Linked DNA regions of Homo sapiens: region 1 is linked to region 2. The links come from fine-mapping of genetic effects on gene expression. Tissue or cell type: substantia nigra. Region 2 holds a variant in brackets; the other region holds the start of a gene. All regions are shown on one strand. Distances are from middle to middle.

The links. PIP is the estimated chance that this variant, and not a neighbour inherited with it, causes the effect.
Region 1: COX7A2L starts here. The variant in region 2 is fine-mapped to the expression of COX7A2L in substantia nigra (GTEx, PIP 0.98).

Annotation. Positions count from the first base shown.
Region 1 is chr2:42,358,153-42,363,152 of GRCh38, reverse strand. COX7A2L (cytochrome c oxidase subunit 7A2 like) reads left to right here and starts at 1,936. Exons shown (of 3, transcript NM_004718.4): 1 at 1,936-2,063. The coding sequence starts at 1,992. RefSeq lists enhancers at 1,196-1,285, 1,846-1,905, 1,275-2,018, 1,926-2,245, 2,019-2,763 and 1 more and a silencer at 1,476-1,645.
Region 2 is chr2:41,740,513-41,745,773 of GRCh38, reverse strand. No RefSeq gene overlaps it. Among named protein-coding and RNA genes, the nearest start is that of LINC01913, 130 kb to the left of the region's middle. The variant C/G (reference allele first, on the strand shown) is at 2,941.

The DNA.
Region 1 (5,000 bases), 620 kb before region 2:
GTAATCCCAGCATTTTGGGAGTCTTGAGTTTGGCAGATCACTTGAGCCCAGGAGTTTGAGACTAGCCTGGGAAACATGGTGAAACCCCATCTCTACTAAAAATACAAAAAATTAGCCAGGCGTGGTGGCGCGCATCTGTGGTTCCAGCTACCCGGGAGACTGAGGTAGGAGAATCACCTCAGCCTGGGAAGTCAAGGCTGCAATGAGCCGAGATCACACCACTGTACTCCAGCCTGGGACAGAGTGAGACCCTGTTTCAAAAAGAATTTAAAAAAAAAAAAAAAAAAAAGGAAATCACTAGTCCCAAACCACTTATCCTTGGAGAAATATGGACATAAACCCAAATTGCATGTTCTTTCCATTATATCACAGTGTCTCTTTGTAAAAGTGGCAACTTTGGGCTGGCTTACATGAATTCGCTGAAACCTTTACAACATATTGGCGGTGCTGAATACTTGGGGCTCTTGAACGTAAGCCTGCAACCAGGATGCTGGTGTACACCCTCACCCTGGAATGCTCAGCCTTGATCCTCCTCTTTTCAGAATGGCTTCATATCTATTTATTTGTAACATAGTGCTTAACAGTAGGAAGTCTTGAGCCAAATGCCTAGCTCTGCCACTTATCCCTGACCTGAGCAAGTTACTTAGCTTCTCCAGGCGTCATTTTCCTGTATTCTAAAATGGAGATGATAATAGCATTTACCTTATAGGATTGTTGTGAAGATTAAATGAGTTTAGGGCAATGCTATATATAGGTTAGTATCATCCATCAATTTGCAACATGATTTCATAAGTGCATCTAGAATATGCTTGTGTAAACCTATGGTTAGATGATGAAGCTAAGAAAAGCCTGAGTCCATCCCTGGAGAGTAAGAAACTAGTATACTCCTTTTACACAGTACCTTGCACACAGCACAGGCTTAACAGACATATTTAAATTGAACTGAAGCGAATACTACCAGAACTGAAAGTGGTAGTTCCAGATCTTTCAGGCTCAAGGTCCAGATTTTACAAGTGTTTCTGATCACCCTCCCCCTACCTCATTTATCGCAAAGAGCAGAGGCCAGGAAAAGGATGAATAATCAATGACCTTAAAACTCAGGTGAGAATAAAAACCAGTTCTGAGAAACCGTGTGACATTTACATCCTGGTACCTGAGCTTTAGATCACTCTGCATGTGTATTTCCTCTGCACAAAGCCCAGGAGGCTACTTTTATATTATTGGGGCAAATCTCCCAACAGCCCTGGGTACTAAACAGCCTTCAGCAGGTGCTTCCAAATTTTCTTATTTGCTTCAACTCCCAGGTTGCCAGGGGAAGCTTGGCCGACAAGTCTATACTCCTGGGCAGACTGAGCAACAGCAGGTGGTGGCTTCTGGATAAGAGGTGCTCTAGGTCGGAAGGAAATAAATGAGACTACGATCAGTTAAAGTTCGGTAAAGCAAGAGACGCCTTCAACCCGACGACCAGACGGTGGCTCCGCAGCACAGACTCTCTCGGATGGTGGAATTCCCAACCGGCTTCGATGTAGCCCCGCCCCTACCCAGACCACGCCCACCAATCACCGCCCTCTCCCCCCCAGGCCCCGCCTGGAGCCCGCCCCTCCTAAAGCATGCTCCACCTGACTCCGACACTGCCGGGCTTAGTCCGCCGGGCTTAGTCCGTGGAGCGCTTGCGCATTTCTTGAGTTGTCGTGGCACTGCCCAAATCTGAATGGGGGAAAGAGGGAACTTCATATTTCCTACAGACTCCGCCACAGCGACTTTGCGTGCTCTCTTAGAGCTGGTTTTGCCTTTCGTGGTCCTGAGAACCCTGGCTTTTGGTTCCCCAATGCGGCTTAAGTGTGCAGGTTTTAAGTTAGGCGATCTTCGGGCAGCCCTAGTCCCAGCACCGGGTCCTTGCGCTGAGTCTCGGGACCACAGCCGGGGAGGCGGGGTCCTTCTCTGGGGCGGTCGCGTTGGCAGCGGATGCGGGAAGCCGGACTCTGGGCGTCATGTACTACAAGTTTAGTGGCTTCACGCAGAAGTTGGCAGGAGCATGGGCTTCGGAGGCCTATAGCCCGCAGGTACGAGTGGCGCCTGGCCAGCTCGGACATGAGAAGTGGCGGCCCTAGCCTCGGCGACAGGCAGTCGCGGCGTTGGAGCCAGGGGAGGCTTCTGCCCGCGGTCGAGTTCGTCTCTGTTCTCCTTGCACCTCCCGGGGCCTCTCCACACCAGCGTACGGTGGTCACTGAGGCTTCTTTTTGTGTACCTGCTCACCTGGCGGGGGCTGGCCTGGCGTGGAAGTTTGGTCTGGCTCACTGCAGGGGTCAAGGTGACCCCCGGGGTCACTTGTCTAAAAGGGATGGTTTGTGGGGGTCCCCAGTGTGACCCGAGTCAGAGGTCCGGCCTTCTCCCTCAATTCGAAGACATCTGGCTTTCGGCCTCCTTGTCGTTTGTCATCTGCCAGAGCCCCATAGGCAGCCTCACTTGAGCTCGAGATTAGAGAGCGCGGGGCTATAAAGGCGTTTAGAGAAACCATGGTGCAGGGGGTTGGGGGGCTATGATCTGGGTTGGGAAATTTAACAGGTTACTTAACACGTCCAGGGAGGGAAGTTGCATGCAGCGAGGTTACACTTTCCCGATTGTAAAATATTTGACAGATGCTCGTTGTTTGGGTTGTCTGAAAAGTATTCCATTTCACGCAGATTCTACCAATTGGAGTTTGACTCTCCAGCATGTGTTGGGGGTAAACATGAGGGATTTTAGAGCCCCAGACGTGCCTTTTCAAATCATGGCGTTTTCCGCTTTAATTGTGTGACCTTGGCCAAGTTATTTAATTTATTGTGAGCTCAGTTTCATCCAGGGCGGCGTTAGTACACATTAAATGAAGTGTGTCAAGTGACTAGCAGTTTGGGCAGGTGGTTGGTTCTGGATAAGTGTTAACTGTTCACCAGAAGCTGTCTGAGATAGTATATTCCCTCCTAATCCTCTAGAGAAGTGTGGGAAGTGTCGGTGAGATACGCAGTTAGACTGCAGTAGTGAGGGGCCCAGATGAGGTGTAAAGGATACTCCATTACTGTTGCTTCATTTCCTTTTTCTGTGGGACACTGCAGCTTGCCCAAGAGGCAGATGTTTAAGAAAGATTTCAGGTCTGGTACCGTGGCTCACGCCTGTAAATCACAGCACTTTGGAAGGCCGAGGCCGAGGGTCGCTTGAGCCCAGGAGTTTGAGATCAGCCTGGGGCAACATAGTGAGACCCTGTCTCTAAAAACAAAAACAGATGATTCTAATCTCAGATAAGAAGGGCAAGTTTTTTTTTTTTTTTTCGGGGGTTAGTGGGGGAGTTGCGGTGGGAACGGGAAGGAAGAGTTTAGGGTTTATAAATGTTGAGTTTGTGATATGTCATGCTTGGTAGCAGCTAGATTTTTGAATATGGAGTTTAATAAACTTGGGTGTCTTCAGCCCATAGGTGGTAATTTGTAGGGAAGAAAGGTTGGATTATAGTTAGAGTATAGAAACATGAGGGAAGGGTGGAGAAGGAGAATGTGTTTAAAGAATAGTCCGGATGAGAAGGGAAACCAGTGTGGTCTCACTGAAACCGAATTGGTAATGACTTGTAAGGAAGGAATAGTCAGCAGTGTTGCACTTCTTTTACAGATTATGTGAGAAAATGGCCATTTCTATCATCTGCTTCTATGAAATGTATTCTCCAGTGTATGGATATTAAATGTTACAGTTTGATGAGTTTGGACAAACCCATGTACTGTATAACCACACCTCCCTCAATATGCAAGATGTTACATCATCCCAGGAAGTTCCCTTGTACCCTCTGTCAATCCCTGCCACCTTCTTATTCTGACTTTTATCATCATAAATAGATAGTTTTGCCTTTTTTTGAACTTCATGTAAATGGAACCAGCTCTGACCCAGGCTGGAGTGCAATGGCACAGTCACAGTTCACTGTAGACTCACTCCTGAGCTCAAGTAATCGTCCTGCTTTTGCCTCTGAAAATGTTGGAATTACAGATGTGAGCCGCCGTGTCTGGCTGCTCAAAAAATATTTTTGAGGTTAGTCCGTGTTGTACGTATCAGTAGTTAATTCCTTTTATCCTCTTATTCTTCTGTGGGATTTCATTTTATAAATATATCACAGTTTATTCTGTTGGTGGTAGTAGATGTTCTTTTATTTATTTTTTTAAAATATTTTTTGAGACAGGTTCTTGCTGTGTTGCACAGCCTGATCTCGAACTCCCCGGCTCAGGCAGTCCTGTCACCTCAGCCCCCTGAGTGGCTGGGGTTACAGATGTGTACCACCACACTTGGTTTATGTTCTTTTAATATATCTTCAGCATAATCTAGGTTTTGTTGCTTAGTAAGAAAAAAGTAAATTTTTCGACTAAAAACTGGCATATTGTAATAAAATGGGCGCTCAGCAGAGATTACCTTGCGATGAGTTTGATATAGATAGGGCTTTCAGATTTCTAGTACCTCTCCTCGTGAATCGTGTTTCTCTTGAGAATTTGAACTTCTTAGTTACTTAAAGATTTCTTAAACTATGTTGAAAAGAAGTGATACTGTGTAGGCTTTATATGAATTGTAAATTTCTGAGTGATTGTGACAGGTGCCCTCCCAACTAGGTGCTCTGACTTTGGTAATTAGGAGTACTTCAGCTTTTTCCTTTCCTGGAAACATACGATGAAGATGTTTGTAATTTGTAGTAGTAAGTAAAGTGAATAATTTGCCATGCACTAAATAACATAATATGGAAAAGGTGGTTCTGTAACAATTGCACAGGTAGAGATTTGTAAGTCAGCTTGACAGCAAGCAGTTGGTGGGATGGCATTTTCCATTGGTTGAAAGGCATCTTCCTTACCTTTCTCTGAATTGCGTCAAAAATAAATTGAGGCCAATAAGCACATGAAGATGTTTAACATTTTCAGTTATTAGAGCAAATCACAACCACAATGAGGTACCATTTAGTATCCACCAGAATGCCTAGAATCAAAAAGACAGATGATAAC
Region 2 (5,261 bases):
GCGCACCCATCACCTGAGCAGTGTATGTTGTACCCAATATGTAGTTTTTTTTTTTATCTCACACTCCTATCCCTTCCTTCCCATCTCAGTCTCCAAAATTCATTATATCACTCCGTATGCCTTTGTGTACTTATAGCTTAGCGTTCACTTATAAGTGAAAACATATGGTATTTGGTTTTCCTTTCCTGGGTTAGTTCACTTAGAATGATGGCCTCTAGCTCCTTTTAAGTTGCTGAAAAATACATTATTTTATTCCTTTTTTATGGCAGAGTAGTATTCCATGGTGTATATATATACCACACTTTCTTTATCCACTCATTGGTTTATGGGCACTTAGGTTGGTTCCACATCTTTGCAATTGCAAATTGTGCTGCAATAAACATATGTGTGCCTGTGTCTTTTTCACATAATGCATTTTCCTTTGGGTAGATACCCAGTAGTGGGATTGCTGGATTGGATGATAGATTTACTTTTAGTTCTTTAAGGAATCTCCATACTGTTTTCTATAGAGGGTGTACTAATTTACATCCCCACCAGCAGTGTATAAGTGTCCCCATTTCACCACATCCAAGCCAACATCTGTTGTTGTTTTTTTTTTTTGACTTTTTAATAATGATCATTTTTGCAGGAGTAAGGTTGTATGTCATCGTGGTTTGAATTTGCATTTTCCTGATTTATTAGTCCATTTTCACGCTGCTGATAAAGATATACCAGAGACTGGGCAATTTACAAAAAAAAAAAAAAAAAAAAGAGGTGTAATTGGACTTACAGTTCCACGTGGCTGGGGAAGCCTCACAATCATGGCAGAAGGCAGGGAGGAGCAAGTCATGTCTTGCGTGGATGGCAGCAGGCAAAAAGAGAGAGATTGGGCAGGGAAACTCCCCTTTATAATACCATCAGATTTGGTGAGACTTATTCGCTATCATGAGAACAGCCCGGGAAAGACCTGCCCCCATGATTCAATTACCTCCCACTGTGTCCTTCCTACGACACACATGAATTCAAGATGAGATTTGGGTGGGGACACAGCTAAGCCGTATCACCTGATGATTAGTGACACTGAGCATTTTTTTCATATGTTTCCTGGCCTTATTTTGAGAAATGTCTATTCATGTCATTTGCCCACCTTTGATGAGATTATTATTTTTTTCTTGCTAATTTGTTTGAGTTCCTTATAGATTATAGGTAGCAGTCCTTTGTTGAATGCATAGTTTGCAAATATTTTCTTCCATTCTGTGAATTGTCTGTTTACTGTGACAATTATTTCTTTTGCTGTGCAGAAGCTTTTTAGTTTAGTCAGGTCCTGTTTGTTTGTTTTTATTTATGTTTCATTTTCTGTTGGGGTTTTAGTCATGAATTCTTTCCCTTGGTCAACATCCAGAAGAGTTTTTCCAAGGTTACTGTATTAGTTCGTTTACACACTGCTGTAAAGAAATATCTGAGACTGGATATTTTGTAAACAAAAGAGGTTTAATTGACTCACAGTTCCACATGGCTGGGGAGGCCTCAGGAAACTTATAATCATGGCAGAAGGCAAAGGGGAAGCAGGCAACTTCTTCACAAAGTGACAGGAGAGAGAGAGCAGGGAAACCACCACTTATAAAATCATCAGATCTCATAAGAACTCGTTCACTATCACCAGAACAAATGGGGAAAACCTCCCCCATGATCTAATCGCCTCCCACCAGCTCCCTCCCTCGACATGTAGGGTTCGAGATGAGATTTGCATGGGGACACAGAGCCAAAGCCTATCAGTTATCCTCTAGAATTATTATGGCTTCAGGCCTTAGATTTAAGTCTTTGATCCATCTTGAGTTGATTTTTGTATAGGGTGAGGGATAGGGATCCAGTTTCATCCTTTTGCATGTGGGTAGCCAGTTTCCCTACTACCATTTATTAAATAGGGTATCCTTTCCCCAATTTATGTTCTTGTATGCTTTGTAGAATATTAGTTGGTTATAAGTATTTGGCTTTATTTCTGGGTTCTCTATTATGTGCAGAATAATATTTTATCATCTTTATTTTTCTCTATGTCCTAACTTTGAGGTCTCTGTTTATACTTGACAGCTTGGGATGGTGGTATTGAGGGATGGGTTATTGGAAAACTAAGCCACCCTTAAAGAAACCTTTAAACCATTCATTATGTCTTCTAGAAGGCAGAAAGCACTATCGCTGCTTTAGCTTTTCTTCCTCATCAGGATGATTTATGGAGGCTTCTGAATTATTGGGATTGCAGCAGCGTTTGCTGTTCCCTGGGTGCCAATACACTGTCATTAAAGAATTGACAGTCTTGTAGTTTCCCTCACACATATCCTCATTTTCAAAGGCATGCACTGTGAATCCAGAAGCCTTTAGGAAAAAAAAACCATATCAGCAATTTGGTATGTTCAGAAAAATGTAGATGGAAGAGGCTGGAAACAGGATGGATCAGAGCCCATTATAGCTGACACATGTACTCTTCACCAATATTGCAGATATGCAATGTTTAATCTATAATTCACAGTATATTTATGCTTCTTCCCATTTTTGGTTTGCACAATATCCCATAAGGTAGATGGACACATATTATGGTTCCCCTTTTTTGAGGGAGCTGAGTTTCAGAGGAATTAAGGAGAGTGCCCTTGGTTGTGGTAGGTAATGAATTACCTGGAGAAAGGGGGCAGAACCATCAGATGGAGTGAGCTGGCATCTTCTGCGTGAGTATTCCCCTTTCTTGGGGAAGGGGAGGTAAGAGTAGGGTCAAAGCAGGGAAGACATGGGTGGCTTTAGGGGAATGTAAAGATCCTGAAATTACAAACAGCCTTTGTGTGTGCCTGTGTACATTTTACTGGAGAGAGGTCCAGTTTTTGAAGGGGCTGAAGACTCCTAAGTGGTTAAACACCAGTGTTCAAGGATTCTACAGCTGTAGATCATCTTGCACTCTACCTATGGAATTGATAG[C/G]CAAAGCTTTGCTGTGGAAATAGTACTTTGGTTTCTGCCTTACTGGACATTTACTACAAAAAACAACATAAATATCCATTCTTATACACCTAGAGAATCCCCTAGGCTCTATGGTGATCAGATTTACTATCTTGCCAAAAAAATAATAAGGGGAAAGACTGCCATTCTAAGAAGAAAATGCGTAGCATTAACAAAATCCTGTGGTCTCATCCCAGGGAAGCTGTATACAACTCAGAAAGCATTCTTTTTGTATACGGATGTCTATAGAGCAGAGTTACTGAAGGCAGCCACAGTTGCTGGGGTATCAGACAAGGGAAATGGAAACATAGTAATTTTATAAGCATTTCTTTGCTTAGAATTTCAGAGGGCTGCCAGAGTCATGCTCACAACTCTGGCTCCTGATATGCTTGTCCTGTGGACAGTTTCACACTGACAGTTTCATAAGCACAATTGGTGCTTAACCAAGCATGGACTCTAAGCAAAACCACTGCTGTGGGAGGGCATTATGCTCAGGGCTCAGAGCCTTTTGATAGAGAGAGTGTGATAAAAAAGAGCATTATAAAAATGATGAAGTTCATTTTCTTTTCTTGAATGTAAACATTAGACTACTTGGAGGCACTCACTAAGGGCAAACTGCGGAAGCCAGTTGTTGACACCAGCTGGTGGTTTTGTATTTTGGCCTCAGGAATTGACTCTAGGTAAGCTCCTTTCTCTAGTTGAGAAATGAAGTAACATTGTTGATTCAGGGAAATCATTTCCATCTGTATAATTTGGAGTTCTAGGCACAGAATGTAATCTGAGTGAGTGATGGGGTCAGGAGCCCCAGGAGGCTGCCTATTCATATTGAGGGAGTCTCCTGCCTTATGTGTCTTCACAAGAGATTAGAATTTCCTAGGTGTGATCATGTGATTGCTGCCAACTTTATAGCAACTAGAGACTGGATCAAGTTTTCCACTCAGAATGTAAAGCATCTTCAAGAAAGCGAGGTGAAATGAAGAACATGAAGAATATATCTTCTTTATATTCTCTCTCATTCCCTTCATCCCTTACTATACCCACTGATTGTGAAAATACTCTTCATCTTGACATTTATCTCTGCCTTTCTAGAACTTATCAATTCTTGGGTCAGCTACACATATATTACTTTGGCATTCACAGCCATGCCTGAGATGTCACTCTTATTCTTTTTTTTTTTTTTTTCACCTGGGGTGGAGTGCAGTGGCATGATCTGGTCTCACTGCAACCTCTGTATCCTGGGTTCAAGTGATCCTCCTGCCTCAGCTTCCCAAGTAGCTGGGAATACAGGTGACTGGCACCGCGCCCAGCTAATTTTTTGTATTTCTGGTAGAGACAGGGTTTCACCATGTTGGCCAGGCTGATCTTGAACTCCTGACCTCAGGTGATTTGCCTGCCTTGGCCTCCCAAAGTGCTGGGATTACAGGCATGAGCCACCAAGCCCAGCCTTATTCTAAGTCTTAAATCCAATTGTTGGCCAGGTTCTTCAATGTTTTTCTGCTGCTTAAAGGAAAGAGATTGAGATTCAAAATCCATTTGCCCAAAGAAGGTAAGTATGTTTATATATCAATTCATCCGAGCAGTGGAGCAAGTAGTTGGAGCTGCAGAAGAGAGGATAGAGACAGATGGGACACTGTGAGGCTGATTCTTTTAGTTAGAGAACATGAATCCTAGTGCCAAAAACATTAGTCCATGCTAGCTATGTGACTTTGGTCAATTCAGTCAATCTTTTTGAGTCTCAACTTCTTTAAGTTTTAGGGTACATGTGCACAACGTGCAGGTTTGTTACATATGTATACATTTGCCATGTTGGTGTGCTGCACCCATTAACTCGTCATTTAGCACTGGTATATCTCCTAATGCTATCCCTCCCCCCTCCCCCAACCCCACAACAGTCCCCAGAGTGTGATGTTCCCCTTCCTGTGTCCATGTGTTCTCATCGTTCAATTCCCACCTGTGAGTGAGAATATGTGGTGTTTGGTTTTTTATCCTTGCGATAGTTTGCTGAGAATGATGGTTTCCAGCTTCATCCATGTCCCTACAAAGGACATGAACTCATCATTTTTTAGGGCTGCATAGTATTCCATGGTGTATATGTGCCACATTTTCTTAATCCAGTCTATCATTGTTGGACATTTTGAGTTGGTTCCAAGTCTTTGCTATTGTGAATAGTGCCGCAATAATCATATGTGTGGGTGTGTCTTTATAGCAGCATGATTTATAATCCTTTGGGTATATACCCAGTAATGGGATGGCTGGATCAAATGGTATTTCTAGTTCTAGATCCCTGAGGAATCGCCACACTG